Homo sapiens: one gene and its partner. The protein of the gene in region 1 interacts with the protein of each later gene in a pairwise test. Each region holds a gene or a part of one and is shown on either strand. Other genes may lie near its edges. The genes, in order: RPP14 and NOVA1.

Region 1 (3,813 bases):
GGATAAAGAGGCATCGTAACTGGTCTTGAGTGGGCTCAGAGTGGTTGGAATCTCTGGGCACCCTTGGGCAGATGTTACCTACGTTTACTAAACCTCTGTGTCATCTTCTCGAAAATGGGAATAATAATACCTCTTACCTCAGGAGCATTTTGAAGACAAGCTAAGGCATGTGAAATGTTTAGCAAAGAGCTGGGTGCTCATAAGGAAAATTGTTAGCCAAAATTATGTTGTTATGTTTTAAGTAAGAGTACAGTGATTTGACATTTATAGAATATAGAAACTTATTTTGTATTCGTATGGGTAACCTTAGTTTGATCAGAATTAGATGAGTTACTGTGCTCAGAAGTCTTAAAAACCAAACAGGAGGCCAGGCACAGTGGCTCACACCTGTAATACCGGCACTCTGGGAGGCCGAGGCAGGCGTATCACGAGGTCAGGAGTTCGAGACCAGCCTGACCAATATGGTGAAACCCTGTCTCTACTAAAAATACAAAAAAGGTAGCCGGGCGTGGTAGCACATTCCTATAATCCCAGCTACTCGGGAGGCTGAGGCAGGAGAATTGCTTGAATCCGCGAGGCAGAGGTTGCAGTGAGCCAAGATTGTGCCACTGCACTCCAGCCTGGGCGACAGAGCAAGACTCCTTCTCCAAAAAAAAAATAATAATAACAGGAAGGCCGGGCCTGGTGGCTCACACTTGTAATCCCAGCACTTTGGGAGGCTGAGTTGGGCAAATTGCTTGAGCCCAGGAGTTTGAAACCAGCCTGGGCAACATGGTGAAACCCTGTCTCTACAAAAAATACAAAAATCTGCTGGATGTGGTGGCACGTGCCTATACTCCCAGCTACTCAGGAGTCTGAGGCAGGAGGATCACCTGAGCCTCGAGAGCCAGAGGTGGAGGCTGCAGTGAACTCTGATTGTACCACTGCACTTCAGCCTAGGTGACAGGGTGAGACCCTGCCTTAAAACAAACAAACAAAAAAAACCCAAATAGGCCAAATTCTCATCAAAACTCTGAAAAATAGCATGTGCATTGGTCATTTCTAGCCCTCTTGACTTACTGTAGGTGTGATCAGCACTGGAAAAGATGCCTGCCCCTGCTGCCACATATGAAAGAGTAGTTTACAAAAACCCTTCCGAGTACCACTACATGAAAGTCTGCCTGTAAGTTTAGTTTCCTAAGTTCTATTTTAGATTACTTTTCTAACATGAATCTGAATAGAATGAAATTTAATATGACTTTTTTTTTTTTCACTTTTTTTAGAGAATTTCAAGATTGTGGAGTTGGACTGAATGCTGCACAGTTCAAACAGCTGCTTATTTCGGCTGTGAAGGACCTGTTTGGGGAGGTATGGAATCACTTGGTAGATTGAACATTCCAAAGATCTTTGTAAGAAATACAGAAAGAGGCCGGGCGCGGTAGCTCACGCCTGTAATCCCAGCACTTTGGAGGCCGAGGTGGGCAGATCATGAGGTCAAGAGATCGAGACCATCCTGGCCAACATGGTGAAACCCCATCTGTACTAAAACTGCAAAGATAAGCTGGGTGTGGTGGCAGGCACCTGTAATCCCAGCTACTCGGGAGGCTGAGGCAGGATAATTGCTTGAACCCGGGAGGCAGAGGTTGCAGTGAGCCGAGATAACGCCACTGCACTCCAGCCTGGCAACAGAGCGAGACTCTGTCACAAAAAAAAAAATCGAGAAAGAATGCTTTTCAAACATCAAAAAAAAAAAAAAAATAAATTATACAACTCTGTATTTTTAAATTTTTATTCATTTATTGTAATAAACACATTTGTATTCCTTTTTTTCCTCCTTCATCCTCTCTACCCTCCTACCCTTCCCAGCCTCTGATAATCACCAATCTACTTTCTATCCTCATGAAATCTACTTTTTGTTGTTGTTGTTGTTGTTGTTGTTGTTTTTCTTTGAGATGGAGTCTTGCTTTGTTGCCCAGGCTGGAGTGCAATGGCACATTCTTGGCTCACTGCAGCCTCTGCCTCCCAGATTCAAGGGATCTTCCTGCCTTAGCCCCCCTGGTAGCTGAGATTACAGGCACACGCTACCATGCCCAACTAATTTTTGTATTTTTACTAGAGACAGGGTTTCGTCATGTTGGCCAGGCTGGTCTTGAACTCCTGACCTCAGGTGATCCACGCGCCTTGGGCTCCCAAAGTGCTGGATTACAGGCACGAGCCACTGTGCCTGGCAAGATCTGCTTTTTTAGCTCTCACATATGAGTGAGAACATGCAACAGTTGTCTTTCTGTGCCTGGCTGGCTTCACTTAACAAAATGGCCTCCAGTTCTATTCATGATGCTGCAAATGACAGAATTTCATTCTTTTTTATGGCTGAATAATATTCCATTGTAATATATACCACTTTTTTTTTTTTATCCATTGATGGGCACTTAAGTTCTACATTTTGCCTATTGGGAATACAATAAATATGAGAGTGCATATGTCCTTTTTTTTTTTTTTCCCCACCTTGGCTTCCCAAAGTGCTGGGATGACAGCATGAGCCACTATGCCCAGCTGCACATGTCTTTTTGAATTGATTTCCTTTCTCTTGGATTTATGCTCAGTAGTAGACTTGCTGGATTAAATGGTATTCTATTTTTAGTTTAGTTTCTTTTGTTTTTTGTTTTTGAGATGAAGTCTTGCCGTGATGCCCAGGGTGGAGTGCAGTGGCATGGTCATGGCTCACTACAGCCTCAACCTCCCAAGCTCAAGTGATTCTCCCACCTCAGTATCCCGAGTAGCTGGGACCACAGGCGTGTGCCACCACGCCAATTTTTTTACTTGTAGAGGCAAGGTCTCACTATGTTGCCCAGGCTCCTGGACTCAAGCAATCCTCCTGCCTTGGCCTCCCAAAGCACTGGGATTACAGACATGAGCCACTGCACCTGACCTATTTTTAGTTTTTTGGGAAACCTCCATACTGCTCTCCACAGTGGTTGTACATTTACATTCCTCCCAGTAGTGTGTGAGGGTTCCCCTAGAGATTATTTTATTTTATTTTTATTTATTTATTTTTTGAGACAGAGTCTCGCTCTGTCACCCAGGCTGGAGTGCAGTGGCACAACCTCCGCACCCCCCCCCGCCCCTCCCGGATTCAAGTGATTCTCCTGCCTCAGCCTCCCGAGTAGCTGAGACTACAGGTACCTGCCACCACGCCCAGCTAATTTTTGTATTCCCCTAGAGATTATTTTAAAACTGTGTTTGAAATTGCAGAAGTAAACTTTCAGAAGTGATGAATTTTGTTGGGTTTATTCTAATATGCCTTCTGTTTGACAAGGAACACGTTAGACAAATGATTGTTGTAGCACAGTGCTACTCAAAGTGTGGCCTAGACTGGCACCTGCAAACTCTTTTCCCATCTTGAAGAGATAAGGAATTTGCAGCAGAACCACTTTTAATGAGAAAGTCTCCTTATGGGCCAGGCGCAGTGGCTCACTCCTATAATCCCAGCTCTTCGGGAGGCTGAGATGAGCAGATCACTTACAGTCAGGAGTTTGAGACTAGCCTGGCCAACGTGGTGAAACGCTTTCTCTACTGAAAATACAAAAATTAGCTGGGCATGGTGGCGCACGCTTGTAGTCCCAGCTACTTGGAAGACTGAGGCAGGAGAATTGCTTGAACCTGGGAGGCAGAGGTTGCAGTGAGCAGAGATCACGCCACTGCATTCCAGCCTGGGCAACAGAGCAAGACTCTGTCTCAAAAAAAAAAAAAAAAAAAAGGGCTGGGCACGGTAGCTCACGCCTGTAATCCTAGCACTTTGGGAGGCCAAGGCAGGCAGATCCCAAGGTCAGCCGA
Region 2 (4,443 bases), on another chromosome or scaffold:
TGCGTAACTTTGGGTAAATTTCTAATATCTTTAAACCTAAACTACCTCATAAAATGGGGACAGTAATAACTACACGACATACTGCATGTAATTGACACAGCATGCAAAGTGGATTGTTTGCCACGTGGTAAGTAAGCCCTTAATAAATGGCAAGACGTTAAGGGATTTGCCCAAGATACACTTGTAAAACAGCCTACAAGGACCAGAAACCAAGGAAGATTTCAGACTCCGAATCCCATGCTTTTCTACTACCCTGCTTCCTAGAACACTGAGTTAATTAAACTACTAATTTGATGAACGACCTTGAGCAAAATACTTCACTGAGTCAGTTTACTCATCTGTAAAATGAGGGACTTGATTTAGATAATGCCTAACGTCCTTTCAGAGTCTATTCCAGCTACATTAGATGTTTTATCCGGTGTTGCAGGGTTGACGTTCAGGTCCGTGATATGTCCAAGATCTGTATAATCATAAGCCGTGCACATGGCAATGAATTTTATTCCGACACTCGTATTTCGTTCAATATTTAGTTCTGTGTGCACACTCAGCTGTTGCCTGTCTTTAGTCTGCCTACCAGCGCCTTGTGAAGGGAAGACCCACACCTAGCTTTATTTATTTATATCCTGGCTTGTTCCCGAAAGGATTTAAGGCGGCGAGTGACACTCTAAGTCCCCTAACGGTGTCACACAGTGCGATTAAGAAATCCTCTTTGGATGAAATCATACCGTAGAAAATCGCCGATGAGTGAGATGCTAACTAATTAATGTCTTTTACCCAACTCTTAAAAATAAAAACTAATGCACCTAGCAAGAAGTCCTGGAAGCATACAGTGCTGGCTCTCCCTCCAGCTCTGACGCTGTCCCACCCGTTGTCAACGGTCACTCGAATGCCCTTCTTAGACTAGCCAAAATTGTCGCCGCTCCAGTACCAGCTGGACCAAGATCCCACCCCACCCCTTCGCTGCCCCTCATCACCCAAGTTTCCTGATTGGGAAGGGGCCCGAAGAACCTTTCTCACATTTCTATTTTATTGGCTGGCACGGCTGTCAGTAATCTCTCCTTCCCGCCTTCTAGCCTAGCGCGTTTCGTGGACCCCTTGGTTTCTGCGACAAGCCGCTTACGTTTGCCTGAGCCGTGTTGCCGGGGACCAGCGACCTTTCACCCCTCCCTTCCCACAGGAGCGCCCCGGCCCCCGCCCCCGCCCCAACCGCCGGCGCGCGTCCTCACCGCGCACGCGCTCCCCTCGCGCGCGCACACGCTCGCGCACACACGCTCCCTCGCCCCCGCCCGCGGAGTTCCCCCTCACCCCTCAGCCGCCCCGCCGGCTGAAGCATCGGCGCTGGGAGGCGGCGGCGCTGCTGAGAGGCAGGGACCCGAGCGCGAAGTGTGTGGGAGTCTACGAACTCAACCCCTCTCTACCCTCCCCTCACAGCCACCCCCCTCCCTCCCCGCCAGCCCCCCCCAACAAGCGGGAGAAATAATGAGCGAGACCGGGCGGCAGCAGCAGCAGCGCCGAGCAGCCCAGGCAACGGCAGAACCGCTCCGGCAGCGGCGGCGGCGGCAGCACCAGCAGCGGGAGCGAGCGCAACGCTAGCGCGGCGCGGGGACCGCCGCGCTCCTTCCCGGCTCCTGCCCTCCTCTGCCGCTCGCTCCTCTCTCGGCATCCACCTCCTTCCCCTCCTCCTGCTCATTCACTCTTTCCCTCACTCTCCCCTCCTCCTCGGCTTCTCCCCGCGCCCCGCCAGCCCTCGCGCTCTCCCACTCCCTCTGCCTGTCCTCCCCGGTCCCCTCCTCCCGCTCATTCACTCGCCCCTCTCCCTTCTCCACTCTCTCCCCCTGTCTCCTTTCTTCTTCTTCTTTCACCCTCCGTCTCTCACACCCCCTCCATTCCCCTGTCTCCTTTCTGACACTGCACTGCAGCTGCTCCTCAGCCCTGCCCCCTCCCCAGTGAGAACAAACCAGCAACATTGCTTTTTTTCCTAAAGAGATTTATATTGATCCGATTAAAAAAAAAAAACCTTAAGAAACCCCAAACGCAAAAAAAAAAAAAAAAAAAAAAGAAAAAAGAAAAGAAAAAGCCAAAACAAAAGGGAGAACCTTCTCCCGGTAGCAGCGGCAGGAACTGCAAACATGATGGCGGCAGCTCCCATCCAGCAGAACGGGACCCACACTGGGGTTCCCATAGACCTGGACCCGCCGGACTCGCGGAAAAGGCCGCTGGAAGCCCCCCCTGAAGCCGGCAGCACCAAGAGGACCAATACGGGCGGTGGGTATCGCTTCCACCTCCCCGCTGGCCCCATCCCCCGCCGCCCGCCCCTGCCTCCCTCCCTCGCCGTCCTCCCTCCCTCCTTCCCTCCCTCCCTCCCGCGGCCCGGACACCTCCAGCCCGAACCCGGCGGCCCCTGCGCCCCTGCCCCGCGCCCCCTCCCCTGCACCTGCCCCGCGCCTAGGTGTCCCCGACACATTTCCATTTCTGTGTTTATCATTCATCAAAATGGCGACCAGTTTTTCGGAATAGACCTATCTTTCCATTTAATCGGTCCAGAGGTTGACCATGTAAATATCCTAGACCTGGGCAAGAAGGTCCATTCAGGAGGAGGAGGAGGATGACCCCGGAGTGAGGTGATGGCCGCCCGAAGATGCGCGCTGCGTTTAACAGTCTGATAAAATAAATAAATAAATGGCACTTGGGTAGCGGATTGCGAATGACTGGGGCGCCGGAGAGTTTTTCCTCTCTCCATCCTCTTGCTTTGGGCCACAAGTAGTATGCAAAATCTTGATGAGTGCATGCCCTTACCGCACTTAGATTGTCGGTGCAAATATTTCATTGATTTGTCTTCAGGGGGGTGCATACGAGGGTGGGGGTGTCTGGAACGGTGACTTGTTAGTTAACATCCTGCGCTTCCTTGGAAGATGAGTTTTAACGGGACCGATATCGCTTCTTCATTTGCACTGGAATCATCTTAACAATGCACCCAATGCATCGAAGCAGAGGTGAATTTATCTCCAGCATATGCATTGTAGACGGATGGGGGTCTTTTGAGTGGCACACCACAACATTTGGAACATTCATTCACATTAAGAAAGCTGGATTTACCGGGGTGTCTCCTGTATAAGATGTGATCAAGTTGACGGAAATTAAAGTTTGTGGAGTTGGCTTAATTTTCTAAAACGTTTCATTTTATTTTTCCTGGTTCTTCCACCCCCTTTCCGTTTTAAAAGTTGTGATTATTTTGGGAAAGGAACATTACCTGTTTTGTCACTTTTAAGCCTATTTAATATAAATGACTCCTAAGCTTTTTAGTATTGGCAGAATTCTTCTTAAGGTCCTTTAATTAATGAGCTTAAACGAGATCACGGTAGACTAAGAAGTGCTAAAGAAATGCACTAGGATTAGTTAGATTTGCCAGTCCACCACACTGAGTTATTTCCTGGCAGTTATTGAAGACTTGGAATACACCCCACAGTTTGGGTGGATTATTTGGTAGGAGAATGGTTGTTTTGCGGACTTTAAGTAGGATATAGGCAATGGCTAATTGTAGTCCTTATGTGTCTGCTAATGACAAATAAATATAGCTCATCACTATTTACAGTCCTGGGCTTTTCTTCTTTTTTAATATGTTAAGTGAAGGTTTGTCATCTTATAAACCTCTGAAGTTTTGTTAAAGGGTCAGTTCATTTCATTTTGCCACAGATAGAATTGGAAGATTTCCATGTTTGGAATAACAACTGGAATTTAGTCATCAGTTTTTACAGTGCTGCAAAATAATAGAATATGTTTATATTTTAATTCCAAGCTTGAAAGTATAAATCCTATAAAATGGGAAACATTTTGTACCTGTTTGTTTTTCAATGTAATTGGCTTATTTTCATTCTCAAAAAATGTTTAACTTCATATTTCCTGCAGTTATATACCCAGTGCTTTAGTTGCTGTTTTTCTCTCTTGAGGGTGGAGAGGGGATACAAAGTTTGAAATACTGTGTTAACCGAGTATATTTCTTTGCATTTTTCAGAAGACGGCCAGTATTTTCTAAAGGTTCTCATACCTAGTTATGCTGCTGGATCTATAATTGGGAAGGGAGGACAGACAATTGTTCAGTTGCAAAAAGAAACTGGAGCCACCATCAAGCTGTCTAAGTCCAAAGATTTTTACCCAGGTAGGTGCAATGGTGAAGAGATTGTTTGATGAGCTCCCCACAGGAAAGAAAGATCTACTTGTGTTGTGTGCTGTCTTGAAAGAATTTTTAAACAATACTGGAGACTTTATTTAGATATTGCTTTATAGGAATATATTGTGGAAAAATTTTCAGATTATTTCTATTGTTGATTATGCCTTTTTCCTATAATTGTTGTACCGTGTATGTGAATTAGACCAGTTGCAAGATGATTCGGGTATTTCTGAATAATTCTTATTAGCAAAAAAACTCAAAAATTTAAAGATAGA

Evidence for each region.
Region 2: the proteins of RPP14 (region 1) and NOVA1 interact in a two-hybrid assay, tested with the Homo sapiens proteins (one large-scale study listed by BioGRID and IntAct).

The regions. Positions count from the first base shown.
Region 1 is NC_000003.12:58,309,245-58,313,057, forward strand, and holds part of RPP14 (ribonuclease P protein subunit p14), read left to right. Parts: intron 1-1,064; 5' UTR 1,065-1,085; coding exon 1,086-1,162; intron 1,163-1,262; coding exon 1,263-1,347; intron 1,348-3,813. UniProt on the Homo sapiens protein: Component of ribonuclease P, a ribonucleoprotein complex that generates mature tRNA molecules by cleaving their 5'-ends.
Region 2 is NC_000014.9:26,595,123-26,599,565, reverse strand, and holds the start of NOVA1 (RNA-binding protein Nova-1), read left to right. Parts: upstream 1-1,532; 5' UTR 1,533-2,129; coding exon 2,130-2,265; intron 2,266-2,483; exon of another isoform or gene 2,484-2,968; coding exon of another isoform or gene 2,969-2,993; intron 2,994-3,468; exon of another isoform or gene 3,469-3,668; intron 3,669-4,012; coding exon 4,013-4,156; intron 4,157-4,443. UniProt on the Homo sapiens protein: Functions to regulate alternative splicing in neurons by binding pre-mRNA in a sequence-specific manner to activate exon inclusion or exclusion. It binds specifically to the sequences 5'-YCAY-3' and regulates splicing in only a subset of regulated exons.